Linked DNA regions of Homo sapiens. The protein of the gene in region 1 interacts with the protein of each later gene in a biochemical or structural test. Each region holds a gene or a part of one and is shown in the gene's direction. Other genes may lie near its edges.

Region 1 (7,027 bases):
CAGTTTTGGAGACTGCTGCGTGAGCCAGTACCAGAGATCTTGGCTGGTCATAGCAGAATATGGCAGCTCTATACCTTGTTGCCTTTCAGTCCGGGTGACCAGAATACCAGCCCACCTCTCTTCCAGTTCTTCTGGGAGAGAGAATCTGATTGGCTGAGTTTAGGTCTCTACTTCTGTTCTAATCATCCATAGCCGGGGGCTTAGAGTCAAAGCACACAAACCTGATCAGCAGATTATCCTGATGGATTGAAGGAAAGGAAGTGGGGAAGTTCTCTGAAAAGGGAAAATGTGGCCTGTGTGCTCAAAGATGGTTACAATAATGTGTTATATATTAGAAGCTTTCAAGGTGCCAGAGAAGAAATTACTCAATTTACCAGTTGCTTATTTATGGCATCTGTGTTGTTAGGAGCTGAAGGAGTGATTAGTTTGTGAATGAACAGATTTTGAATTAACTAGTTGTGAATTAATGTGGGACAAGATCATAAGATTTGATGGCCTGAACTTCTGTCACTGCTGCCTTGCTTCCTCCTCCAAAAATGGTCTGGAGGGCAGGGCTTGGTAGCTCACACCTGTAATTCCAGCGCTTTGAGAGGCAAGAGGATCGCTTGAAGCCAGGATTTCTGGGTTACAGCTAGCTCTGATCTTGACACTGCACTCCAGCCTGAGCGACAGAGGGAGACCCTGTCTCAAACTAGTCTGTAGAAGAGCTAAGCACAGGGATGGAGGAGAGCAGGAGTTGAGTTTCTGGAATCACTTACCTCTTCTTTAACCAGAGCAGCTTTTTCTTTACCCTTCCAGTTGCATATTTCCAATATTGTGGTCTGCTGGTGGCAGTCATTCACAAAAAGGTCCCTGCTACACTTTAACCTGGTTAATCTACTTTCCCTACTTCTCATCACTCAATGGGGAGGAGGGGGATCTATTGTAGTGACTTTTTTTTTTTTTTTAAGGATCTCCCTTCTGTATTCTTCATCCCCTTCTTTTCATGCATTGAGAATTTATTCTGTGTGTGTCTCAGAATGAGAGAGAATGTGCCTGTGAGAATCTGGTTGTGCATTTGGCCTGAGAGAGCCAGCGATGATAACTTTATCAATAGATACTGGGTAAACCAGAACATTTACCAAACTGGGTAAATTTGTTGTGTCATAATTCGAAGATCAGATTTGGGTCTTTCATGCTAAGAAGCCTAAGTAATTCTGTAACAGAAGGTCTTCTGTCTAGAAGGCTTAAGTGTTTGGTTTCCTTACACCTACCAGGAGTCACCATCCTGATAACTTCAAGTGCTGTTAGGATGCAGCAGGAGAATGGGAAGTTAATGGGGGATTTGAGGTTAGAGGTCCTCATCACGCTCCTCTCCCCATTTATTGGGCAGGGATACAGACTAATAGCTATGATAGATATAACAGAATCTTCCATATGATTCAAAGCTATTATGGGATGCAACTAAAATTTCCAAGGCTTCACCTGAGCTCATGTCTATGAAAGCACGTTCGAAACAAAATATATTTAACTTAAAGTGAAATAGGCTGGGCGCAGTGGCTCAAGGCTGTAATCTCAGCATTTTGGGAGCCTGGGGCGGGTGGATCACCTGATGTCACATTTTTTATTCTCTCATTTCCATTTCTCATATTTTTTAAATGAAAGCAATATTTGTGCAGACAGTACTGAAAAAATTCAAAATAGTGAAAGTCTTCCCTTTTCCATTAAATCCCACTCCCATTATGCTTTTAACCATTTTTGTTTGTTTGTTTTTAGGGTTTTATTGTTGTTCCAAAAGTCTAAAAATATACCATGCCTTTCTCTCTATATTTTTTCAACTCAAAAAAAATATTTCTTAACTTTTTGCTAGATAAGAAATTTAGGTCATTTTCCACCTGTCCTAGACTTTGATTTCTATCAGTTACATTTTGGTTCCTAATTTTGCTGTTATTTTTAACTTTTTATTATAAATTTCTGTTTATTGACCTATCACTTTTAGACAGTATATTTGGCCCTTCATGTCTGTGAATGACTTATCTTTGGTTTCAACCAACCTTGGATCAAAAATATTCAGGAAAAAAGGTTGGTTACATCTGTACTGAACATGTACAGACTTTTTTCCTTGTCAGTATTTCCTAAACAGTATAGTATAACAACCATTTCATAGCATTTGCCATATATTAGGTATTGTAAACTAGAAATGATGTAAAGTACGTAGGAGGATGTGTATAGCTTATATGCAAATACTATGCCATTTCATGTAAGAGACTTGAGCATTCTTGGATTTTGGTATCTGCAGGGGACCCTGGTACCAGCCCCCTACGGATACTGAGAGACAACTATATTTCCTCACTTCCTGGTCTTTCAGAAAAAGATATAACACCGATCCCTTTCCTTTTGGGATTTAAAAGCCAAACCTTGCCTTTGTTTTTCCCTCCTCCCTTCCTAGCCTTTGTTTTCTTTTTTCCTTTTTTTTTTGAGACAGGATTTTGCTCTTGTTGCCCAGGCTGGAGAGCAATGGCGCCATCTTGGCTCACTGCAACCTCCGCCTCCTGGGTTCAAGCGATTCTCCTGCCTCAGCCTCGCGATTAGCTGGGATTACAGGCACCTGCAACCATGCCTGGCTAATTTTTGTATTTGTAATAGAGACAGGGTTTCACCATGTTGGTCAGGCTGGTCTTGAACTCCTGACCTCCGGTGATCCACTCCCCCTCCCTTGGCCTCCCAAAGTGGTGGGATTACAGGCATGAGCCGCTGAGCCCGGCCCCAGCCTTTGTTTTTGGTTAGTACTGTTACATTGGCAAGATTTATTGCATTTATATAATGTTTTATAACTCTTCTAAAGTTTTCTGTGCTTCTGCAGGAAAATCTAGAAATTGAGTACTAATAGCCACTCTTTTAAATATGTATGTTGACATGAGTATTAGTTACTATAGAACCAAGTACTGTGGAGCCATAGAGAAACTTCACTTCTGTTAAACCTGTGATCCTTAAAAAGGAAATATAACAAAGTCAGCCGGGCACAGTGGCTCACGTCTGTAAGCCCAGCACTTTGAGAGGCCCAGGCAGGCGGATCGCCTCAGGTCAGGAGTTAGAGACCAGCCTGGCTAACATGGTGAAACCCCGTCTCTACTAAAAATGCAAAAATTAGCCCGACGTGGTGGTGGGCACCTGTAATCCCAGCTACTCGGGAGGCTGAGGCAGGAGAATTGCTTGAACCCGGGAGGTGGAGGTTGCAGTGAGCCAAGATCATGTCATTGCACTCCAGGCTGGGTGACAAAGCAAGGCTTCGTCTCAGGAAAAAAAAAAAAAAAAGAAATATAACAAAGTCCTGGTTGAATGAGGAAAGCTCATTGAAGTTATTTTTAAAATTTAATATTATAATGGGTTCTCATGTTGTAGCCATTCAGCTTGTCTTGGTAGACTTTCCGGAGTCTTGGCCTGCCTTTTCTAATTTGGGAAGCTTAGTAGACCTGTTACCCAGCTGTCATCCTGGGATTACTTCACATTGTTCTCCTGGGTTAGATCTATTGTTATTTGGATCCCATGTTTTTCTCTTTTAGATACCTTTTTTATTTTACAGGAATACAGCCTTCAATAGTTGTTTCTGGAAGGATATGCTGGTGATAAACTTTCTGAGTTCTCGAATGTTGAAAATGGCTTGTCTTTGTTCCTGATTGAAAGTTTACATGTGGAATTATAAATTCCTCAGAATTTTGAAAACTTTGCTGTGGGAATCTAAAATACTTGGTGTGCTAATCAGAGGTCCATTGCAGATCTGATGGTTATTCTCCTGTAGAAGATTGTAATCTACAATTGTAGTCTACGATCTACGGGATTTGTTTACATTCTGAAAGGTTTCTTTGATTTTGTCTTTGAACTTTTCTATAAAATTTATTTCAGTAGTTATCTTTAATTTATAAGAGTTCTTCTATCATCTTTCATTTTTCTTTCTTTTTAAATAGCAACCTGTCCTTGATTTATGGGGAAATACCTTGAATTTCTCTGATGCTAATTTCTCTAGAGTTCTTGAGACACTTCCCTGAATTGGTGACTCTAACAGTGGGTTTGTATTTAGGTATTCCATACTAATTTTTGTATTTTAAATATTTAAGTTATTTGATAAGTACAAAAGATTATAACAGGTAAGGCGTATGTAAACAAACATACATATAATTACCAACCAGTTTACTAATTCATTAGTGTAACTTTAGCAGGATGCACTTTCCTGATCACATCCACTGCAACCATGTCCACCTTCACCAATGACAGTAGCCATTGTACTGAATTTTGGATTCATCATTCCTGGTCTGTCTTTATACTTTTAACATATATACATATGTAAAATTTATTTATTTATTTATTTATTTTTTGAGACGGAGTTTTGCTCTTCTTGCCCAGGCTGGAGTGCAGTGGCGCGATCTTGACTCACCGCAACCTCCTCCTCCCAGGTTCAAGCAATTTTACTGCCTCAGCCTCCCGAGTAGCCGGGATTACAGGTGTGCACCATGCCCGGCTAATTTTTTTGTATTATTAGTTTTCACCATGTTGGCCAGGCTGGTCTTGAACTCCTGACTTCAGGTGATCCACCCGCCTTGGCCTCCCAAAGTGCTGGGATCACAGGTGTGAGCTACTGTGTCTGGCCATCCATATTTCTTAAATCCAAATGTTTGAAAATGAAGAGAAAAAAACTGTAAAGTTTCACCAAACTTGTCTTGCAGAAAAACCCTGACCTGCACTGATATTGTAATCTTTGTTGATCTCACTTAGTGTGAATATTTGTATGTTTCACTGTAGAGATTCTAGGAATAGAATTGCTGGTATTTAAGAAGAATGTGTGCATATTCACCAATATTGGATAATGTCAGATTATCTTCCAAAAAAGGTGGTGTCAGTCTTCGTTCTCTCCAGCAATGCAGAAGTTTTCATTACTCAGCTTTCTTGCTAACATCTACTTTTGTCACACTTCAAAAGGTTTTATCGGTTGGGCATGGTAGCTCACGCCTGTAATCCTAGCACTTTGGGAGGCCATGGTGGGTGGATGGCTTGAGACCAGGAGTTTGAGACCAGCCTGGGTAAAATGGTGAAACCCCATCTCTACCAAAACAAAACAAAATTAGCTGGGCATAGTGGCCCACACCTGTAGTCCCAGCTACTTGGCAGGCTGAGATGGGAGGATCACCTGAAGCTAGGAAGTGAGCTGTGATCATGCCATTGCACGCCAGCTTGGGCAACAGAGTGAGACCCTGTTTCAAAAAAAAAAGTTTTTACCCACGAGTATAAAATACCACCTTTTAGTTTTCATTTGCTTTGCTAATGAGTTTGAGCATCTTTTACTATACTGATTAGCCATTCTTCCCTTTTCTCACATTCCTATTCATGTCTTTTGCCCATGTTTGTACTAGTTTTTTAAAAAAATTATTTCATACTGATTTTTAATAGTTTCACAGTTGGATGCATGTGGTGCAAATTTCTCCTTTCAATTGGGCTCACTTTTAAATCATTTTTATTTTTATTTTTTGAGATGGAGTCTCACTCTGTAGCCCTGGCTGGAGTGCAGTGGCGTGATCTCAGTTTACTGCACCCTCCACCCCCAAGGTTCAAGAGATTCTCCTGTCTCAGACTTCTGAGTAGCTGGGATTACAGGTACCCGCCACCATGCCTGGCTAATATTTGTATTTTTAATAGAGACGGGGTTTCACCATGTTGGTCAAGCTGGTCTCGAACTCCTGACCTCAGGTGATCTGCCCACCTTGGTCTCCCAAAGTGCTGGGATTATAGGCATGAGCAACTGCATCCAGCCTTATGCGTTTTTTGATGAGTAGAAGTTCTTAATTTTTATGTGATTGCATTTATCAGGCTTTTCTTTATGGATAGTGCTTTTGAATCTTGTTGAAGAAATTTTTCAACAGAGTTCTCGAAGATATTTTCCATTATTGTAAAAGTATAAGACGTAGTTTTTTTGTTTTTTGTTTTTGTTTTTTTTTTACCTTTTCTCATTTAAGGTTTTAATCCACCTGGAGTTGATTTTGTATACAGTGTGAAGTGGTGACCAAGATGCATGGTTTTTCCTCAAAGAATAATAAATTGTTCCATCACCTTTCATGCAAATTTTTTTCTTCACTGGTTTGGATGCCATCACTCATCTGTGCTTTGGTTCTGGACTCTGGGCCGTTAGTCTGTTTTTACAGAAATTGTTAAAAAGTTACAGTAACTAAAACAAGATGATGCTGCTGCTAGCATAAACAAACTTCTTGCCTGGTGAGGTGGCTCAAGGCTGTAATCCCATCACTTTGGGAGGCCATGGTGGGAGCATCACTTGAGCCAGGAGTTCAAGACCAGCCTGGGCAACATGGTGAGACCCCATCTCTGTGTAAGATAATATTTTTTATAATAAAAAACCAAACTTCTTTTGATATATAGCATACACATAGGAAGTACACAGATAATGAAATTATAGCTGGATGAATTTTCTCAAAATAATAATCGTGCAGGTCAAGAAAGAGAACATTACCAGCACTCTAAATATTCCCCTCCCCAGTGGCTAACCTCACCTCATTCTTCCAAAAGCGACCTACTATCCTAACTTTAACAGATTAGTATTGCCTGTTTTTGAACTTTATATAAATGGAACCTGTGTAGTATATATACAGTTGCCCCTTGGTGTACCTGGGGGATTGGTTCTAGGATCCACCCTCCCAACAGGAAAATCATGTGTACTCAAGTCCTGAAGTTGGCCCTGCAGAACCCATGTATAGGAAAAGTTGGCCCTCTGTATATGTGGGTTTCACGTCCTGCAAATACCATATTTTTGATCTGCATTTGGTTGAAAAAAAAATATGCGTATAAGTGGACCTGCACAGTTCAAACCAGTTGACAAGATACAGTTGACCTTTGACTAACACAGGTTTTTGTTATTGGATATGTTATTGTTATTCAATATTCAACTATATGTTATTGTTATTCAAAGGTCAACTGTATTCTGTTTCTGTATATGTATTCTGTTGTTTCTGCCTTTTTTTCTGTTTCGTTTGCCAGATTCATCCTT
Region 2 (7,027 bases), on another chromosome or scaffold:
CAGGACTTGGCTTGGCTGTGGTATCTTTGGGCTGAAGACTTCCTCGTCCTCAGGGCTGGCCATGGTTCCACCTTTATATCCCCATGATGTCCTCTCTTTTTTTTCTTTTTTTCTTTTTTTGAGACAGTCTTGCTCTGTGCCCAGGCTGGGGTGCAGTAGTGTGATCACAGCTCACTGCAGCCTCGAACTCCTGGACTCAAGCCACCCTCCCACCCCAGCCTCACAAGTAGCTGGGACCGCAGACAAGGGCCACTACACCTGGTTAATTTTTTATTGTTTGTAGAGATGGGGTCTTGCTATGTTGCCCAGGCTGGTTTCGAACTCCTGGGCATGAGGAGTCCTCCCACCTTGGCCTCTCAAAGTGCTGGGATGACAGGAGTGAACCACCGCGCCTAGCCAACATCCTTTCCTTCCTTTGTCCCAACATTGATCTTACTCAGATGTTTACATCTCTCTCCCCAATTGCACTAGGGACAGGAAGGGATGGAGGCTTGCTCCTCAAATACTTGTTAAATGGCTACATGTTTGAATGAATGAATGAATGAAATCCTGCTCTTGAGCCTTGACCTAAATGGCTAAGCAGACTCTCTCCTATTTTTCTTAAATGCTCATCTCTGGGGCAAGTTCCCCACCCTGGTAGGAGTCCCAGGGTCTCTCCCTGAACTTCCTGGGGCCCCCTCTCTCCCCACTACCCCAGCCTGTGTCTTCTCCCAACCTTAACCCTGGGGGCTTTGCTCCCCAATGTCATCCTCTCTGTATCTCTCAGTTCTCTGACTCTCGCCGTTTGTAAGTATCTCTCTCTCAGATGCGTGGCAGCCAGGGTCACAGCCAGGTTCTTTGGGACAAGCCAGGGGTGTATGCCCAGCTCCATGGGGCCTGCAGAGGCTTCAGGGGACACCCATGGAAGAAGACCTGCAGGGCCAATTTATAAACAGAGGAGCAGAGCAGGACCCAGGGCTTGGAATCCATGCTGAGTTACGTTTTTGTTTTTTTTTTTTTTTTTTTGAGAGGGAGTCTCACTTTGTCGCCCAGGCTGGCATGCAGTGGCGCCATCTCGGCTCACTGCAACCTCTGCCTCCTGGGTTCAAGCGATTCTCCTGCCTCAAGTAGCCGGGATTACAGGCATGCTCTACCACGCCCGGCTAATTTTTGTATTTTTAGTAGAGATGGGGTTTCATCATGTTGGCCAGTCTGGTCTAGAACTCCTGACCTCAAGTGATCTGCCCGCCTCTGCCTCCCAAAGTGCTGGGATTGCAGGCATGAGACACTGCGCCCGGTCCTGAGTTCAGTTTTGATTGGGGGGCTTCCGGGATAATATGGGGCCGCTAGGACAGGGACCCTTAGTGTGACTGGAAGGGAATTTCCTGAAGGAATTCATAGCAGAGGTGGAGTGGTGGGAAGGATGGTTTCTGGGGGAGAAGGAGATGCGTGAACCTGGCCAGAAGACAGTGTGTTGTGACAGATGATTGCTGGTGAGGGGGTAACAGTCTCCAAGGTGTAGATGTTGGGGGCTCCAGATACGGCAGGAGGGGCCTGGCCTCTCGGAATCCCCTCAGCCCCATCTCATAGAAACATGTGCTTTCTACCCAGGCTCCATACTCCGGAAGGGAGGCAGGACCCTGTCACTTTCTTGGCCTACTTTGGAAGTTCTCAGTCAGGTATCTCCAGGTGTGGCAGAGGGGCTTTGGCCTGTAGGGGGTGTGGTAATGTGGGTTTTGGAGGCAGAAAGCTTTTCAGGAAAGCCCCCTGGTCCATCACCCCCCTTTCTTTTTTTTTTTTTTGAGATGGAGTCTTGCTTTGTTGCCCACGCTGGAGTGCAGTGGCACGATCCCAACTCACTGCAACTTCCACCTCCCGGGTTCAAGTGATTCTCGTGCCTCAGCCTCCCGAGTAGCTGGGATTACAGATGTACACCACCACACCTGGCTAATTTTTGTATTTTTAGTAGAGACGGGGTTTCACCATGTTCGCCAGGCTGGTCTTGAATGAACCCCTGACCTCAAGTGATTGGCCCTCCTTGGCCTCCCAAAGTGCTGGGATTACAGGTGTGAGCCCCCAGGCCCGGCCTCATCATCACTTCTTCACCCACCCTATTTTGGTAGCTCTCTCTCCACTCGTCCTGTGGAACTGATCCATTCTCGGTCCCATTCCCTTCTCTCTGGGCCAATCTGCACCTAGGTTTGTGGCTTCATGAGTATGGAGGGTCGTGCAGAAAGGGGCCAGGTCTGTAGGAACCTGGGTTCATGCCCTGGAAATTTGCCCATTTAAGATAAGTTAGGGCCGGGTGCGGTGGCTCATGCCTGTAATCCCCAGCACTTTGCACTTCGGGAGACCGAGGCGGGCGGATCACCTGAGGTCAGGAGTTTGACTAGCCTGGCCAACACGGTGAAACCCCATCTCTACTAAAAATACAAAAATTAGCCAGGCGTAGTGGCGGGCGCCTGTAATCCCAACTGCTCGGGAGGCTGAGGCAAGAGAATTGCTTGAACCTAAGAGGTGAAGGTTGCCGTGAGCTGAGATCGTACCATTGCACTCCAGCCTGGGCGACAAGAGTGAAACTCTGTCTCAAAAAAAAAAAGATAAGATAGGTGTCCTGAATAAGATAGGTGAAATGGGTGAGGATGTACTTTATCTTACACGGTCTTAGGGAGTGTCTCAGGCGGTGAACAGAACTCTCTCGCCCCTGAGCTGGGGCCTGGCTGACCCAGAGCTATTTGTGTGCCCACCTGTCACCCTCTTTCAGGACCACCTGCTTCAGGTTGCCAGATTTAGCAAATAAAAATAAGGATGCCCAGCTAAAATTGGATTTCAGACAAGCAAGGACTAATGCAATATTTGGGATGAACTTCTAGCTAAAAGTTACCTGTTGTTGATCTGTAGTTCAGACTGAACTGGAGGTCTTGCATTTTATCTGCCAACCCTACAACTGCTGCCTCTGGGGCGGTGAGATGGATGGGGTTTGGGGAGGGGCCAGAGGTGTGTGTGGCTGACCCTGGAGTTGGGATCAGGGCTCAGTGGAGGCCCCGGGGATGATCTGGAGCGAGTTTGAATCGAGTGGAGCTGATTCACTGAATCTTGGCTTTTTTTTTTTTAATTTGTATTGAAATGAGGTCTCACTCTGTCACCCAGGCTGGAGTGCAGTGGCACAATCTCGGCTCACTGCAGCTTCTCCCTCCCCGGCTCAAGCGATCCTTCTGGCTCAGTCTCCCAAGTAGGTGGGACCACAGGCACACGCCACCGTGCCCGGCTAATTTTTTGTATTTTTGGTGGAGATGGGGTTTCGCCATGTTGCCCAGTTCCTGAGTTCAAGTGATCTCAAAGTGCTGGAATTACAGAAGTGAGCCACTGTACCCAGCCAGCAGGGTCCTTTTTCATTTTTATTTTATTCTATTTTTTGAGACAGTGTCTCACTCTGTTTCCCAGGCTGGAGTGCAGTGGCGTGATCCTACCTCACTGCAACCTCCAACTCCTGGGCTCAATGTGATCCTCCCACCTCAGCCTCTGCACCTAGCTAATTAAAAAAAAATTTTTTTTTTTTAGAGATGGGGTCTTGCGATGTTGCCCAGGCTGGTCTCAAGCTCCTGGCCTCAAGCGATCCTCCCACCTCAGCTTCCCAAAGTGCTGGGATTACAGGCAGTATCCTTCTAATGTCCTTGGTCGGGCCTCCTCCAGCCTGTGGCTCGAGGGTCTAGATCTCCTACTGGCCTGGGTGGCATGGAGGGTGTAGTCTAGGTGGCCTGAGGGGTGCCCAGGGATCCCCAGTTTGGGAAGTCCTTGTCTTCAGGGATTTCTGGCCAATGTGGTCCGTATATTTAGAGATGCTGGGAGGAGGGGGTGGGAAATTGCTGGAAACACCCTATTATACACCAAGTAAGATTTTCATGTAGGATTGGCAAGGCCTGAGTGCTGGGAAAGTGTCTGCAATGGCTACCTTTCAAAGCTGGGAGACCCCGCCACGGGGGCGGTTGTGGACTTGAGGGGCTGACCCCACAGCACGGAGGCTGCTGGGAATTCCTGCACCTTTGCCATGCTGCCACCTGAGGCAGGTTCCCAGCACCTGAGCTGCAGCCTCTGGAGTGGGGGAAATGGGGGGAAAGTAAGGGGCCGGGGTCATGGGGTCCACGTCCACCTTCCGCCCGCCTGGGCAGTTTTCTTGGATGTAAAAGGGAGATGGCTCTCCCCAACCTGCCTGGGTCCCAGTGTGGTGCTGTAGTCCAAGGGACTTGGTGTGACCCCGTGGGGATGCCACAGCATGGGTGTGTGGGACCCCCGGGGGCAGGTCTGTGGTGGAGACAGGGTGGGAGGGCCTGGCTTGAGGGCTTGCGGTCCTGGGCACTTGAGGATGCAGAAGAGGCTGCATGGTTGGGGAGGGTAGGTAAGCAGGGGGCAGCTTAGCCCTTTCCCCTCCTGTTCCCTGTGACAGAGGGGAGACCCTCCAGGCTGTTTGTGTCTTAGATGGTTGGCCGAGGGTAGGCCTCTTTGCTGGCTGGGGTCTAGCAGGGTCTCAAGGTGCATTTTCTGGCTACTGGCAGAACCACCATCAAAGCAAGTCCGTATCTTTTCGTCTATCCATCTGTTGTTACGCCAGCCAGTGAGGACCTTGCAGAGGCGTCAGGCCTGAGGGAGTCTCATTAGGTCCTGGTCCCCAGCCCCCGGCTGGCACATGAGAAGGGCCCACTTTATATTTTATTTTATTTATTTATTTAAGATGGAGTCTCACTCTGTCACCCAGGCTGGAGTGCAGTGGCGCGATCTCGGCTCGCTGCAACCTCTGCCTCCCGGGTTCAAGCAATTCTCTTGCCTCAGCCTCCTGAGTAGCTGGGATTATGGGTGCATGCCACCTCGCCCAGCCAATTTTTGTATTTTTAGTAGAGATGGGGTTTTGCCATCTTAGCCAGGCTGGTTTTGAACTCCTGATCTCAAGTGATCTGTCCACCTTGACTTCCCGGAGTGCTGGGATTACAGGCGTGAGCCACTGTGTCCGGCCCCACTTTATATTTTATTAAAAATATCGTTGAGGAGTGAAGGCTATGCTATACCAGGAACTTGCCTGGCTCACACCCTTATGTCGTCCAACCCCCGTCAAGACATAGAACAGCGCTTTGGGAGGCTGAGGCGGGAGGATGGCTTGAGGCCAGGAGTTTGAGACTAGCCTAGACAACATAGTGAAACCTCCATCTCTACAAGAAGTACAAAAATTAGCCAGGCGAGGTGGCTCATGCCTGTAGCCCCAGCTACTCAGGAGGCTGCGGCGGGAGGATCACTTGAGGCCAAGAATTTGAGACCAGCCTGGGCAACATAGCAAGACCCCGTCTCTTAAAAAAAAAATTAGCCGGGTGTGGTGATGTGTGCCTGTAGCCCCAGCTACTTGGGAGGCTAAGGCAGGAGGATTGCTTGACCCCAGGAGTTAGAACAATCCTGTAACCCCTAAAAGTTTTTGAAGCCCGTTTGTTCATCCTTGTCTCTTGTCCTGACCCCAGCAACCACTGATCTGTCTTCTGTATATGGTTTTCCATTTGTACAATGTCACATAAATGGAATCCTACAGTCCACAGCCTCTGAATCTGGCTTCACACAGCATAATGCATTTACGGCATTGCTGGGTACACGGGTAGCTGGTCCCTTCTGGTCCCTGAGTAGTGTTCCATGGTGTGGATATGCCACATACCTCTAGCCACTCTCCTCTCTAGGGAAATCTAGCAAACCGGCTTGGCCGGCCCTGCATCAGCTCGGGACCCCCCAGAAGAAGGTGGTTCCTCTTTCTCATTTTCACAAAGGCACCATCTGGCTGGCGGGGGGCCTGTGGCCTGCACCCCATCACTACCCACCCCCCACATCAAGAGCTGACCCCAAGCCGGGGGAGCTGCTCATCTCCGCCCTCAGAGCTGGAATTTCATCTTCTGTTTCTGGTGACTCATACTGTGAGCCCCGCGATGAAATTACACCTGCCTGCCGCTGCCCTCCGGGCCTCTGGCCCCATGCGATCCTCCCGCCGCCATCCAGGTGGGCTCTGGAGTAATTGAGGCTATGGGGCCAGGACAGCTGGAGGTTGAGGGCGGTGCCAGGGAGGGGAGCTGTCTGTGCCCTGGGGTGTCTTGCCCATCATCTTATGTATCCCCACCCTGTGGGAGTCTGGGGTTCCTGGTGGTGCGTCTCTGGTCTTCACTCCTGCAGCTGTTTTGCTTGGGGTAGAAGTTTCATGTTTGCCTGAAATAAGAGCAGGACTTCTGAGGGTAGGGAAGGAAGGTGGTGAAGCCACTGTTGCAGGCAGGAGCAGGAGTTAGGATCAAACGGAACAGGGCTGGCCGAGTGATGTCACATCTCTGGGCTTTGGTTTGTTCATCTGTTCTTATTATTATTTTGAGACAGGGTCTCGTTCTGTCACCCAGGCTGGAGTGCAGTGGTGCAATCATAGCTTGCTGCAGTCTTGAACTCCTAGGCTCAAGTGATTCTCCCACTTCAGCCTCCTAAGTAGCTGGGCTTGGAGGCACTTGCCACTACACCCAGCTAATTTTTTTATTTTGTAGAGATGGGGGTCTCGCCATGTCGCCCAGGCTGGTCTTGAACTCCTGTGTTCAAGTGATCCCACAACCTCAGCTTCCCAAGTGCTGGGATTAGAGGGGTGAGCCACTGCGTCCTGCCTGTTCATCTTTAAGTGGGAGAACAGAACACTAGGTTTGCAGGGCTGTGAGACTCAGCTGAGGGTAATGTGAGTGTGTGGATTACCACAGAGCCCTGGAGGGCCCCAGGGGCCACCAAGGAGCGGGTGGTGGGGACATGTGAGGCTCAAGCCTCCTGTGCCCCTTTGGGCCAGAGTAGGACCACTGTTGTTTTTTGTTTTTTTTTTTTTGAGACAGAGTCTCACTCTGTCGCCCAGGCTGGAGTGCAGTGGCGTGATCACGGCTCACTACAACCTCCGCCTCCCGGGTTCAGTTGATTCTCCTGCCTCAGCTTCTCGAGTAGCTGGGATCACAGGTGCGTGCCACCACACCCGACTAATTTTTGTATTTTTAGTAGAGGCGGAGTT
Region 3 (7,027 bases), on another chromosome or scaffold:
AAAACCAAAGTATGCCTGTCTTGTGGTTTATAATAAGCATACTGTTTTATAGGTCATTAGCTAAGGATAAAAGACTTGCTGGGAATTTTTGATAGGGCTAGTCTAGTCTATTCTGTTTTAACATCAAATTTTCAGAAAAGTACATTTGTTATCCTTTTCTTTTATACATATTTACAGCTCAATTCTCTGAATTCAGAAGCCTACAATGTAATAAGACAGGAAGTAGTATGAAAGTATACAGACCCATAAATATGTGATATAAATGTATATATATTTATTTGTGCACACCTGGGATATGCACCTGGAATATGCACCTGGAATACACCCCTGGATTTACACAGTTTTATCTTCCCTTCTTATTCAGTTAAAGTCCTAGATCAGAACTGACCCACAGAAGAGGGAGCTTCTCTAGTTCGCCTCTGCGGACAGAATAATGGAGACATGGCTATGGTTTCTAACCCTGGCAAGTTGTTTAGGTTTCCTCTTAGTTTCTGTTTTCTTTAGCTTTAAAAAGGGTGGGGGGTAATTAAGCATATCCTGTATTCTTACAAAGATGCTTGTCCAGTTAAGACAGTAGTTGGAAAAACAACTGTAAAATTACGTATACATATACTATTTCTCTTTATTAAAATCACCCCATTCTTTCCTTCAAATCCTGCTAAAACTTCTGTTGAGTAGGAAAGTTCAATTCTAGTTTGGTGAAACTTTCCTAGAGAGCAGGGGTCAGCATTTTCTATAAAAAGCCACAATGTAGATAATTTTAGGCCTTGGGGGCCCTGCAGACTCTGTTGCTACTCTTCAAATCTGCTATTGCAGCAAGGGAGCCGCCCTGGACAACATGTCAACTAATGGGTGTGGCTGTGTTCTGATAAAACTTTATTTATCCACATTGAAATCTGAATTTTATATAATTTTCATGTGTCATGAAATATTCTTCTTTTCATTTTTTTTCAACTATTTAAAAATGTAAAATCCATTCTTACTTTATAGACCATACAGGCAGCAGACCGAGTTGGGCTGATGGGTGGACAGACTCCTGTTGTAGAGAAAAAGCACTGGGTTTGTCAACCATAGCCATTTCGAACCTTTCTTTATTTAAGACTCTTTGGTTTGCTTTGTATTTGCATCTGATTTTGATTCTTCTCCCTTAGGCCAGGATTCATACCCTTGTTGTTTTTACTTTTTGTTAAGGACAGCTTTGTACAGATTGTACAGTAAACAAGATTATATGTCCAAGGATATATGTTCTGGGCTTTTGTTTTCTTTTGTGGTAATGTAATTGTGGGACTGAAAAGAACCTCGACACTTAATCAGATGTGACCTTTTGCAAGACTATCCTAGTTATTTAAGAAAGCTAGCTTTCTCTGTTTTACCGCTTTTTTCAGGAAATATGATTGCATAACTGACATTCTCTATGGATTGCCATTTTTAAAACAGTATGAAAAGAATAGTGGTGTGGTGATAGATAACAATTGATTAAAGGGTAATCCCTTTAGTTTTCTTTAAACTTGCTGAGCAAAAGAACAAATTATCTCTCTAAACATAAGTGATAAATCTGAACATTTTGTTGAATTATTAAAAATATATATATATAAAGCCATTTGAGTGTAGAAGCATGTCATAGCTACTCAGGAGGCTGAAGTGGGAAGATCACTTGAGCCCAGGAGTTCAAGGCTGTAGTGTGCCATGATTGCACTTGTGAATAGCCACTGCACTCCAGCCTGGGCAACATAGCAAGACCCTTATCTCTAAAAATATAATAAATAAATAAATAAACTAAAAGGATTAAGAAAATCTACACTCGCTTCTACTTGAATTCTGGTTTACAAATAGTAGAGAGAATAGAAGAATAGTGGATATCTAGATAGGGATATTTCTTCCCCAGTAAATTCTGTTGTCAGCCAAGATGGTAGTATCTATAGCTACCATCTTAAACTGACATGTGATGTGCTCCAGGATCTCTTTAGAATGAAACTGATGGAAAATAACCTGTCAGTTTTACCCAGGAAGTGGTAAAGCTGAAGTGTGACAGTTAGGAGGTGATCCATTCCGATTCTCTTGCTATCCATTCAAGATCTGAATGAAGAAAGGAAACAGGTGAAATTACAGGAGTGCTAACAATGAATAAAAGTTACAAAGCCTTTGGGTGTTTGCCCTTTAACTCAGATAGCTAGCATAATTTATATGAAATATAAGTTATATCAATAAATAATATTTTATGATAAAGTATTCTAGCTTTATTTTGCTGTCTATACTTCAGGTGTTCAGCAGTACTCAACTTTTGCTATCTGAATTTCTTAGTGTGGTTAGTCATCTGGAAAGTCAAAAACATGCAAACATTATCAGGAAATCATAAAGATGTTTCTGTCCTCTTTAATGCTACATATATGTTCTCATTTGCATACTTCTTTGGCTATTTAAAAATTAATGAAAGCAAAGTTATTGACTAAAAAGCTATGAATTAGGGTGGCTGAAGACAGAAAATTATATTTATATGGCTTTTTAAGTTGTCAAAGGGCTATAGAGCCTCATAATAATGCTATGAGGGAGTTTGGACAGGGTTAGTATCTTTCTCCAGCATCTTCTCAGGGAGGGAAGTAAACATAGAGAGGCTATGTCACACACCACCTGTCCACAGTGGGGAGTGACATTGCTGGTGCAGTGATGATGCTAGAATGCCAACCACATTCTAGATCAGGGGTTCTCAAAGTGTGATCAGAGGGCCCTGGTTGTATCTAAGACCCTTGCAGGAGTTCTGCCAGATCTGGACTATTTCAGAATAACACTAAGATATTGTTTTCCTTTTTCACTCTCATTTCACCAGTAAACAATAGAGTTTTCCGAAGGCTACATGTCGTGTTGAGATGTCATTGTTCTGACATCCTGTGAGATATCTACTAATGTATAATCGTGTGTTTTCAAAAATTCTCAATTTTAATTTCTAATATGCTAAATATTGATAGATATAATCCATGTAAACACAATAAATTTAAAGAGTGTAAAAGGATCCTAAGACAAAAATGTTTGAGAATTGCTGTTTTAGATATTGTGCTAAGGCCGTTAGAAACATGATCTCATTTAATGCAGAAAACACACATATGAGGCAAGCTCTACTGTCATTCCCATTCAATATGCTAGGAGATGAGGGCCTGGAGAAGTTAATGAATTGCAGAAGGTACACGGGTTGTTAAGTTGCAAAGATAGAATCTGAACCCAGGTTTCAAGTTAAGAACTCCACTGTCTGTGTTGTCAGGCACATTGTCTTTCAAAGAAGCACCAGGAAATGCCTGGATTTGGACTAATTTCTCAGAAGAGAAACTTCTTCCCATAACCTAGGCTATCTCCAAGGGAATGTAAATATGAAGATTATCCTTATAGACAGTGTAAAATAGAGATTATTTTCTAGTAGTTTGTGGGCCGAGGCTTGTACTCTGTGAAACACAAAACAGTTGAGCATCGGATCTTTAAACCTGGAGGATTTTACTTAAAAAAGAAGTTTGGATTGCCAGCTACCCTTGAAAAATTTGGAGATTTTGAGCTAGGCTGGACTCATATTCCCACATGGCCACAATCAGCTGCAGTTTTTATCTGCTGTTCCTGCTAGATAGATGTGTGTCCTCTGGTTTGCCACAGACCTCACTACTCCTTATTACCTTCCTCGTAGCTCATGTTCCTCATTTATGTTGCCTGTTTGAGGTATTTGGGTTAGAAACAGCTGGAGATGTTCTGTCTACTGCATAGTGTTTATAGGCCATCTGCTTTCAACTTACGTGAAAAATAAAAAGTTATTAACAGTAAAAGAGCCAAATATATCCCATTCTGCTTACCCAAACCTGGATGTAATAAAGACCTCACTGACAGTGCCACATAGAAAGCAAATTGCTTCTTTCTTTACTAAAGCATAATATTCTGATTCATTAAAGAATTAGGATCTGCCAGTGAATTAACATTTATTTTTAAACATGAATCTCTTTTCTTTTTAAGTGTAATAGTGAAATAAGCACATTCTACTCATTGCCCTCATTTTATGTTTATTTTAGTAATGTCTACTGTCATCATTATCATGTCTGGACCCTTTATAAAAAAAAAATCTCTGTGAACCTCTGTGTACATATTAAATCAGTCATTTGAAACAATATGAGATTGTCAACCTAACGGACTGCATTATCCTGGGCATTTAGACAACATTATTGAACTTCAAATTTTTAGCTTAACATAACATTTGTCAGCAGTAGATATTAAGCATTTATCATAATTTATAAGTATATATTTGCTTGCCTCTTTTCTTTTTTTGCCTCACCCCAGAATATAAGTTTCATAAAGCTGGAAACTATATCTGTTTGTTCACAATGTATATTCTATGCTTTGTACAGTGTTTAGCACTTAACAGTCAATAATGAATGAATAAAGGAATAAATATGTAAATATATCAGTGTTGTATATGATAACTCATTCTTCTGTAATCTTAAGAATAATATGTAAAAATTCTCAGCAAAAATGCTCATGCTTTTTTCATTTGAGAATTAAATAGGGGAGATATTTATTTCTTATTATCCACATAAATATATATCCACTTCTGTGTGTGCTATGTTCTATTTAGGATAGTGCCCGGTCTTCCTGATGTGAGGTCAATAGGCAGGTTACACATCTATGTAGCTAAGAATAAGGTGCATATTAAGACCAGGATGCAAGAAGAGGCTGTTGAACTTGAACATTCAGCACAGAGTCTCTTCTCTTCTATACTAAAAGATAGTCATCCTGCAGTCGGAAGTGGCAGTTATTCGGCCATTGGAAAAGTCTCATGTAATAGTAGCTTTTAGATGATGTCTCCTCCAAAGGGGCATTCTGCTATTAACCTATTGCTGAAAGAGAAATACCATTGTCTATTAATACTACTGGAACTAAAGATGAATAGTGAATTGGCCTTGATCTGACAGTGAGTTTGACTTTGATAGCTCGTCACTTAAAAAGGTTCTTTTATATTTATGAAAAAAAGCATGACGTCAAGCCAGGGGGAAAAATTGATATCAACATTTAAGACCAAACTCGTAGGGCTTCCAAAAAAAAGGCCCTTATGTGAACGTTTTTTTTTACATGCATAACTAATTAGCTTAGGTTATTATAAGCAGGGCTTCTGTGATAAAGTTTCCGGTGGTGTCTCGGGATACCTTGTTTATAGTACCTTCTCTTTGCCAGTCCATCTTCAAATTGGAATTATAGAAAGTAGAGGGAGGGATAGTCTACCGTCTCTCACTGGATTGGTGCCACCTAAAACATTGTTATGCTGGAAATGCTAGAATATAATCACTATCAGGTGAGATTTATTCTGACTCATATTCAGTCTTTGAAATATAATGCAATAAATTGATTTAATCCACTTTTTGTTATTGTAATAGACATACTGTTTTCAATAAGTATAAATCTGCTCTTTTAATGCTGTTTATTATTTGATGCCATAAGAAGTAATTCAATGTAGTTTTGAACAAAGTAAATATTAGTAGGATTCTTTTTTTTTTTTTTTTTTGGCCTAGTGTGTGGCTAAACTATCTTCATCAGCTCCTGTTCATTGCTCATAAGATTAAATTGTCTTTATCAAGAAAAAAGTGACTTAAAATTGAATAATGTTGTTTTTTGGGGAAAAGTATTTCTCGTTCTGAATTAATGTCTGTAGGAAAGGAGAAAAAACATCCTGTTGGCTTGTTAATAGTCATGTCTTTTAAAACACATACGTGTAAGTGTTATGCATTTGAAAGAAACTACTTAATGTAGAATTGCTTTTTATGTTGAGTTTTTTCTTAATTACAATGTTGAATAATCATGTCCAAATGAAAAGTGGGAGAATTAATCCACAACTAGTTGATTTAATCATTGGAAGATTTATATTTATTTTCTACAGCCATTTTACACAGTTGGTTCTTAAGGAGGTGTGTGTGTGTGTGTGTGTGTGTGTGTGTGTGTGTGTGTTTTAAAAAGAAAGCTGTTCTGTTCGCCAAGGAAAGTGAAACAAACAATTATGCCACTTCTACATTGTTGTTTGATCTTAATAAACCCTTTCATGTGTGTTGGGGAAATTTTTGCCCTAAGATAATTTCAAACTTTTAATTATTAGATATGAGAAGAAGGATACAAGGTTTGAAAGAGACGTATAGTTAATTAGCAGGGAAATAAAATAGGGCAAAGTATTACACCAAATCCTACTAGTTAGACTTTAAACTTCAGTAATATCAAAATCCGTTAGCACAGTGCCTGGTACATAACAAAGGCTTAATAATTTATTCTGTTGGTGGCCTGGTCAGTTTCATGTTTGTGCCTGAAGGAAGAGCCGTCTGAAACTCACAAATAACAGCGCTGTTTTCTTTTCCCTCCATGGCTATGTTCAGGTGCAGACCCACCTCGAAAACCCCACCAAGTACCACATACAGCAAGCCCAACGGCAGCAGGTAAAGCAGTACCTTTCTACCACTTTAGCAAATAAACATGCCAACCAAGTCCTGAGCTTGCCATGTCCAAACCAGCCTGGCGATCATGTCATGCCACCGGTGCCGGGGAGCAGCGCACCCAACAGCCCCATGGCTATGCTTACGCTTAACTCCAACTGTGAAAAAGAGGTAATTCATGTCTCCTCTCCTCTCCTGTTTTCTTATGCTAAATAACTTGTCTGTTGAATATGATTCCCACACTTAACTGTGGACTCTAGTTTGTCCTTGTGGCCACATTTACCAGCCTTTGTCCCCGATTCACCATCGTGGCTGTGGCATTCCAGCCTGTTGTCTCCATCGCTGGGTTATTGGGTGTAGAGCACATGACGGGAGACCTGGCCCTCTCCAAGTGAAATGTGGAGGCGAGGACACTTTTGCCACTTGCTTCTTCTTCCTTAGCTGAGTGCTCTCTTCTCTTCCATGCCTTTCAGTTTATGAAGCAGTGAGAATGCAGAGAGAGGAGAAGGGGAGGTGGAAAAGGAAAAGCAAAAATAGAAGAGGTGTGGGACATGCTGTTTAGAAGTTCCGCTTGTTGTGAATGTCTGGAA
Region 4 (7,027 bases), on another chromosome or scaffold:
TACAAATGTGCTGGGGCACTTCCCTGCCTGGAACAAGGGACCCTATGCCACCCTCTGGATCTAGGACTCAGTGGCTCTGGACCCACAGACCCAGCCTTTCCAGCATTCTGCAAAGGAAAGTGCTTCTCAGAAGCCAATGACTAAGCCAGCCCAGGGGTTCCTTTTACAGAGACAATTGTTGGGTCAAGAAGGAACCCCAGAGCTGAGCCCCACATAGGGCTAGGAGCCCACGCCTCCTGTCTTTCTCACTTGGAAGTCAATTTTACATAGCATGGTCTAAAGCCTCATGGACCCCACAAGTCTTTTAAATAATAACTAACTTCTCTTCCCTTGAATAAAATAATCAGCAACAATAGGAGAAGCAAAGTCATGAGAAACGGAAGGAATGTAGTCCCTCTGAGGATGGCTGGTGAATTTGCATGCTGGTGTTCTTCCTACACCCAGCCTATCACCTCAGTTAAGTACTTATTGATGATTTATCCGTGGAAAGTTCTTGAACGCTAGCAACATGCTCATTTCTGTAAAGAGCTTGAAGTACAAGGAAGAGTTTTAAGTTTAAACTTTAAAAAGTTTTAAGAGTTTAAGTAAAGAGCTTTATAAGACACACATGAAGTAGCAACAGCTCCTCATGTGTAACAAGCTGCAAATAAGTGAAATTTCTGCCAGCTCAGCAGCTCCTCGCCTGCAGACAGCAGCAGCCACATCAAGTTGCCCAGACTCATTCCTCTTGTTTGCCTCCTCCGTCCCTACTCTGGTCTTCCCAGAGCAATTTGGAGAGGGCTCCCTACTACCAGTGGCATCATAAAAATGACAGTGTACTTGCCAAGGGCATGGTCTTGGGGTGCTCCTAAAGCTGTTGAACTGCAAAAAGGGGTGCCGTTTATTTGCAGAAGCCACAAGAATGCTCTCCTCCCCAACTCTGCTCTTTCACTTGGGTCTCAAATCAGCTTGTCTGGGGCCTTATCTCCCCAAATCTTTTATTCCACTTAGGGGCCCTCACCTCCCTTCCCTTGCCCATATTGGCTTTTCAAATTCAGCCCAGTGAGCCAGACAGGGAACTCTTCTCCTTCATCTTCTCTCTCTTCACAGCCCCCATGATCTATCTCTTCTTTTCTCTACATTGTAATGGAAAAAAAGCTTTTTGTCTAGCCATGATTGCAAATAGAAGGGGGATGTGTGTGTGTGTGTGTGTGTGTGTGTGTGTGTGTGTGTGTGCACATATGCATACCCAAAGCAGTATTCTCACGAGCTGTTAACAGCTCAAAGGAGTCATAGGTCATCATCAGAAAGGTTTCATGGAAACAGGAAGCTCTCAGGAAGATCTCACTTACCTTACACAATGGCAAAGATAATTGTGCATCAGGGTGAAAGAGTAAAGAAAGGTTACTTGCAGCAAAAGGAACCACAAAATTAAGGCACAGAAGCATACCTGAGTAGGGCTTGTCTAGTGGAGCAGTGAGAATAGTTAGAATTGGACACAAGTTGCAGCAAGAGGAAGTTGTGCAATGTAAGTGTGGCAGGTGGGACAAAGATGACCTTTGGAAGACAAGTGGCTGAGAAGAGATTTGCTGTGGTCCATCTCTAGGGAGCTCTCTGAGGTTTTTGAGCAGATTGTGGCAGGATGACAGCAGTATTCACAACTTGCAAGGGAGCTGGATCCAGCCAGGGAGCGCACAAGGTGTACTGAATGAGGGAAGAGCATGTCAGTGGGTCGTCAGGGAGGGAAGAGTCTCAGAGAGAAATGCCCAGACTGGACAGAAGTGTGAGGCATTCCCGGTGAACCGGGACGCTCTCCTCCTACAATGTTGCCACTTGATTGGAGTTTCCTTGATTGTGAACTACATTCTTAAGGAAACTTCTATTCCAAAATGAGTTCAAACTGGTTTTGTGCCCTTTCTACACCTACACTCTATCTCATCACTTGTTTTTTTCTAGCTGTGTACCACTCACTTCCTTAAGAAGTCTCTCCTGGGTCTGCCTCCAGAACCGCTGGCTTTGTGTTCTCTGTGTATTCTCTTTGCTGTGAGTCTTGATTTTGCCGTCTGCATGTCCCCTTGGCCAGGACAATCCTGTGTTCCCTGTTGCCTGGTCCACCCTCCTTAGGATAATGATGGGAGGAACTTTTTGCCCATCTATGGAGCATCACTGTGCCCAGCCCTGCCTCCCGGGCTTCTTTGCCTCTGATATTCTGTCATCTTCTCCCCCAACCTAGAAGAGGGAAGGGAAAGAAATTATTTTACTGGAAACTCCAAGGTTCATGAATGATAAACTAAGAACGTAAGCCATTCTCTACAGCAGAAGATGCTACCTGATTCCTGAAATGTCATCTGTTTTTGTAGCAGGACTGTGGTACATGTTCTTCACTCTTATCACCAAAAGACACTTAGGGGTCATAGGTGGTAATGTGTCCTCTGCTTCCAGTGCGGAGCTCAAGGAATTTCATGGAGTCAGGGACAGCTGTCTGAAAGGTTGCAATGTCACCCTTTTCAGCTCAGAACCATAATTCCTTGAGCCCAGATAACAGTTCAAAATTTAGGATATGAAGCCAAAGCTGAACTCTAGCTGAAATCAAGAGTGGATATAATAACCAAGAAACAAATGGTTCTGACAAGCACAGCTTTACTCTGAGCATGACTCAAGGGCATCTGGTAGAAAATGAAGAAGGATCCCAGCAGATGTTAGGGCTAGGGAGATCCCCTCGGTTGGGGGATGTAAGTGTTTTAATATTGTGTGGGCAACTCTGCTTTGAATGTATGTCTGGAGGCACCTACACCATCCAAAGCCTTCTGGTGCAAAAGCAGGACTCCTAGAGTATATTCCAGTATTTTTTCCCTGATCCCAGCTGAAAACAGCCATAGAAGAGCCTCCCTTTTTGAATTATGGCTGTCTGTCCGCTGGGGTGGAGAATGGCCCTGGGAGACAAGAGACAGCCCATGGAGCAGGTTGTAATTCTACAGGCATATGAAGAGCATTCATTCTGAAGAAGACATTCAATTCAGGAATGTGAATTACACAAGGAAGGTAGACAAATCCCAGCTTTAACAAGTGCTGTTCACCTATCACTACATTTTCAAGTAAAGGTGGTGTATCCATTTGCTAGGGTTTCCATAACAACATACCAGGGCTGAGTGGCTTAAGCAAAAGAAATTTATTTGCTCAGAGTTCTGGAGACTGGAAGTCCAAGATCAGGGTGCCAGCAGGGTTGGTTTTCCTCAGAGGCCTCTCTCCTTGGCTTGCCAATGACTGCTGTGTCCTCACATGGCAGCCCCTCTGTGCACACACTCCCCTGGGGGCTCTCTGTGTGTCCAAATTCCCTCTTCTTATAAGAACACCAGTCATATTGGATTAGAACCCACCCTATCAGCCTCATTTCACCTTACCTCCTTAAAGGTCCTATCTCCAAATACAATCACATTCTGAGTACTGCGGGTAAGGGCTTCAGCATATGAATTTTGTGAGGACACAAGGCAGCCCCTAACAGGTGGCCTAAGAGAATCTTTGTTTGAATGCTAATAATCATGATACCTAACATGTTCTGAGTGTGACTCACTATGTGCCAGAGACTTCTAAGTACTTTGCATGTATTATCACAACTATTATCACAATTATAGATTATATAATTATTGATTATATAGATTATAGATCAATTATAGATGACTACCATCTTCTCTGAAGACTTACTTTGGTGTAATTATGTGACTGTAGTGAACACTATGCCCTGGTCCCTGACCTTGGATGCCTGTGATTCGATGAGACATGGAATAATGGGAGACTCTTACCCTCATGTTTTGATTGGTAGCAGATCTCCGGAATGTGCAAAGTTTTTTAGTTGTCGTTGTTGTTGTTGTTTCGAGACTGTCGCCCAGGCTGAATGCAATGGCACGATCACGGCTCACTGCAGCCTCTACTTCCGGGGCTCAAGTGATCCTCCCACCTCAGCCTCCCAAGTAGCTGGGCACATGCCACCATATCTAGCTAATTTTTTCTTTCTTTCTTTCTTTCTTTCTTTCTTTCTTTCTTTCTTTCTTTCTTTCTTTCTTTCTTTCTTTCTCTCTTTCTGTTTTTGTAGAAACACAGTTTTGCCACATTGCCCAGGCTAGTTTAGAACTCCTGGACTCAATAGATTCTCCCACCTCAGGCTCCCAAAATGCTGGGATTACAGGCATGAGCCACCATGCCTGGCCAAGGCTTCTTTTCTTAATCCATGATCTCCCAAAGTCACACCCAAGTCAGTGATGGGATAATATGAGTGGGAGGACCCAACAACCTCTTTTGGAGGGTCTTGCCCTGACTGGCACTTCACGTGTCTGAGGTTCCTCTTTCGTCCTTTGGCTGGCTGAGTCATCAACATTGAGATCTACAGGATGCACCAGCACCTCCTAGAGGGCCCTCAGCAAACCACTGAGCATTTCTTACAAGCTACACCCCCACACCAGATCTTCTCATTTAATCCACCTATCGACTCTGTGCTAAAACTATTTTTATCCCTGTTACAAATAAGGAAACTGAAATTGGCCTGGCCACAGCCATGGGCACCACCCTTCCCTTGTGTGACCTTGAGCAGCACACCTAGCCTCTCTGGGTGGATCTCACTGGCCTTGCCTGGAAAATAAATGCTGGATCTCATCTCCCCTTCATTGCTGATGACTCCACTCAGCTCGTAAGAGGCATTTCTGCTTATGCCTGGAAAAATCTAGCATTCACACACCACCACAATACTATATTCCATGCCAAGTCACCACTATTCTTGGCCTCCCTATCCCCACCCTCCTTTTTGGGGGTCCCAGACTACAGAACCAATAAACAAACCCACTTTCATGATTCCTCCATCCCCACTCCACTGCCCAAAGTCCCTCCTCACCCAGGTAACCTGCAAACACCCATCTGGTTTGCATAAGGGCAAACCTGCCCCCTGGAGTGTGAGTCAAACAGGAACTTCCAGACAAGCTGTCCTGGGGCAGCCCTGGGCCACCTTGCCAGCTCAAAGCAAGAGTGTCACTTGCTTGGGTGAAGAGTGACACTGGGCTTTCTGTCTCTTCTCTGGCCCTGCAGGAGGCTCTGTCGGTGGTGAGCGACGACCAGTCCCTCTTTGACTCAGCGTACGGAGCGGCAGCCCATCTCCCCAAGGCCGACATGACTGCCTCGGGGAGTCCTGACTACGGGCAGCCCCACAAGATCAACCCCCTCCCACCACAGCAGGAGTGGATCAATCAGCCAGTGAGGGTCAACGTCAAGCGGGAGTATGACCACATGAATGGATCCAGGTAAGCTCACCAGGCCTGTGCAGGATTGGGGGAAGGCACAAAGTCGCCAGATCTGCAGCAAGTGGCTTCTGGCACTTAAGGTTTTTGCAGCAGATGGGGCTCTAGAGCTGGGCCAGGAAGCCTGTGTCAGTCCCTAGAGAGCTAAGGCAGAGAGGGCCACAGACTGATGATGGGGTGGAGTAGGGCTAGGAAGCCCCCCTGCCTCTCTGGGGCCCACGAAGCCCTCAGAGGCCAGGTAGGAGTCAGGCCCCAAGCGCCTATGCAGACACTCGTGGAACACTTATTTCTTGTTAATCCCAGGCCCAGGTCCAGTCCTGTTGGGGACAGCTTAGCAATAAGCTACTCTTCCCTGTCCTGTTGAAGATACTTAACCCCTCTGGGCAGGTCTCAGCAGAGCAAAGGTGACCAAACCATTCTTTAGTAAGAGTGGAGAAGGGATGAGGAAGGTGTCTACCTTCCTGTGGGGGCTCACTGTGTCTGGGAGGGGGCAGGCACCTGGAAGGCGTGCATGAAGTGGGTACAATACTGGGTCAGTTCGGGCTTTGCTTGTAGAAATGGAGACAGGAGGGTCCAGGGAGAGAAAATCACAGGGTCATGGAAGAGGACAGTGGACAGGCGGCCTCAGTTTTGCGTCCTGCCTCTGCCCCTTGGGCAAGTCATCGAAACCCCTCAGAGCACCAGCTTTCTCCCTTCTCAAACAGGACTGGGATATTCACTTCCTTATGGTCCTTACTCTAGCGTTACTCTGATGCCTCAGGGAAAGGACCTGGGATGGTGCCTGAGACGCGTTAGGAAAGTGCTCTATAGTGACAGTGATTGTTATGAGCAAAGACTTGAAAGACAGAGAACATCAGTCTTATTCACAAAATATCAGATAATCTACTGGGCCAAAGGCACAAAGAGATGAAAATAAAAAGCAACAGAGGGCCCTGAATGGCAGGCTGAAAACATGTGCCATTTATTCCACAGCCAGAGGCTGACTTTGAGCACCGATGTGACATTTAACCCAGAGGCTGACTTTGAGCACAGACGTGACATTTAACCTCATCAGAGCAGTGACTTAAGACTAGCGAGCTGACAGTCCTTGCGCACAGACGGTAGGATGGGAGAGTCAGAAAGACAAGTGAAGAAGTTAGTAAAATATCCCAGATAGGAAATAATGAAGTTCGGAACTAAGTGATGATAGTGATTTTGGAAAGTGAAAAGGACAGATACATAAGGGCGATAGCAAAGAGATGATTAACAGGGCTTAGGTGAGTAAAGTGTGAATGAAGGGGGTGCATGACAGGAAAGAATCAAAGGCGACTAAAGCCTGCACATTTTAAAGGCTGGTGCTGTGAGCAGCCGCAGAAAGGTGGCACAGGAAATGCTTTAGGATGGGATGTCAGTGTTCTCTTTGAGATTCCTTGTGAGCAATGGGTAGAACATCCAGATAAAAACGTCTACTAGGCTTTGGGAACTGAAGCTCAGATAATCTTTCAGGCCTGGAATTTACGTTTGGGCATCATCTCTAAGGAGTCTGAACTGTGAAAGTGGATGAGGTCACCGAGGAAACTAGTCTAGATTGAAGAGAGAGAAGGGAATGAGCATGGTTGGGAGGGAGAACTCCTCCAGAGCAGCTCATGGCCTCAGACCTGCCTGTGGGAACTGCCAGGCCTACCACATTTCAACCCTACTAACCAAAACCAGTGACTGGGATCTCAGCCACCTTTCCAGATCCCAGGATTTCAGGAAGGCTCAGAGGTTCTGAGCCTGCAGCCCCT

Evidence for each region.
Region 2: the proteins of PIAS2 (region 1) and GTF2IRD1 form a complex in vitro, tested with the Homo sapiens proteins (one study listed by BioGRID).
Region 3: the proteins of PIAS2 (region 1) and MITF form a complex in vitro, tested with the Homo sapiens proteins (one study listed by BioGRID).
Region 4: the proteins of PIAS2 (region 1) and FLI1 form a complex in vitro, tested with the Homo sapiens proteins (one study listed by BioGRID).

What each region holds. Positions count from the first base shown.
Region 1 is NC_000018.10:46,907,482-46,914,508, reverse strand, and holds part of PIAS2 (E3 SUMO-protein ligase PIAS2), read left to right. Parts: intron 1-7,027. UniProt on the Homo sapiens protein: Functions as an E3-type small ubiquitin-like modifier (SUMO) ligase, stabilizing the interaction between UBE2I and the substrate, and as a SUMO-tethering factor.
Region 2 is NC_000007.14:74,456,892-74,463,918, forward strand, and holds part of GTF2IRD1 (general transcription factor II-I repeat domain-containing protein 1), read left to right. Parts: intron 1-7,027. UniProt on the Homo sapiens protein: May be a transcription regulator involved in cell-cycle progression and skeletal muscle differentiation. May repress GTF2I transcriptional functions, by preventing its nuclear residency, or by inhibiting its transcriptional activation.
Region 3 is NC_000003.12:69,931,442-69,938,468, forward strand, and holds part of MITF (microphthalmia-associated transcription factor), read left to right. Parts: intron 1-5,150; exon of another isoform or gene 5,151-5,281; coding exon of another isoform or gene 5,282-5,314; intron 5,315-6,380; coding exon 6,381-6,608; intron 6,609-6,910; coding exon of another isoform or gene 6,911-6,925; exon of another isoform or gene 6,926-7,027. UniProt on the Homo sapiens protein: Transcription factor that acts as a master regulator of melanocyte survival and differentiation as well as melanosome biogenesis.
Region 4 is NC_000011.10:128,753,063-128,760,089, forward strand, and holds part of FLI1 (Friend leukemia integration 1 transcription factor), read left to right. Parts: intron 1-5,052; coding exon 5,053-5,264; intron 5,265-7,027. UniProt on the Homo sapiens protein: Sequence-specific transcriptional activator. Recognizes the DNA sequence 5'-C[CA]GGAAGT-3'.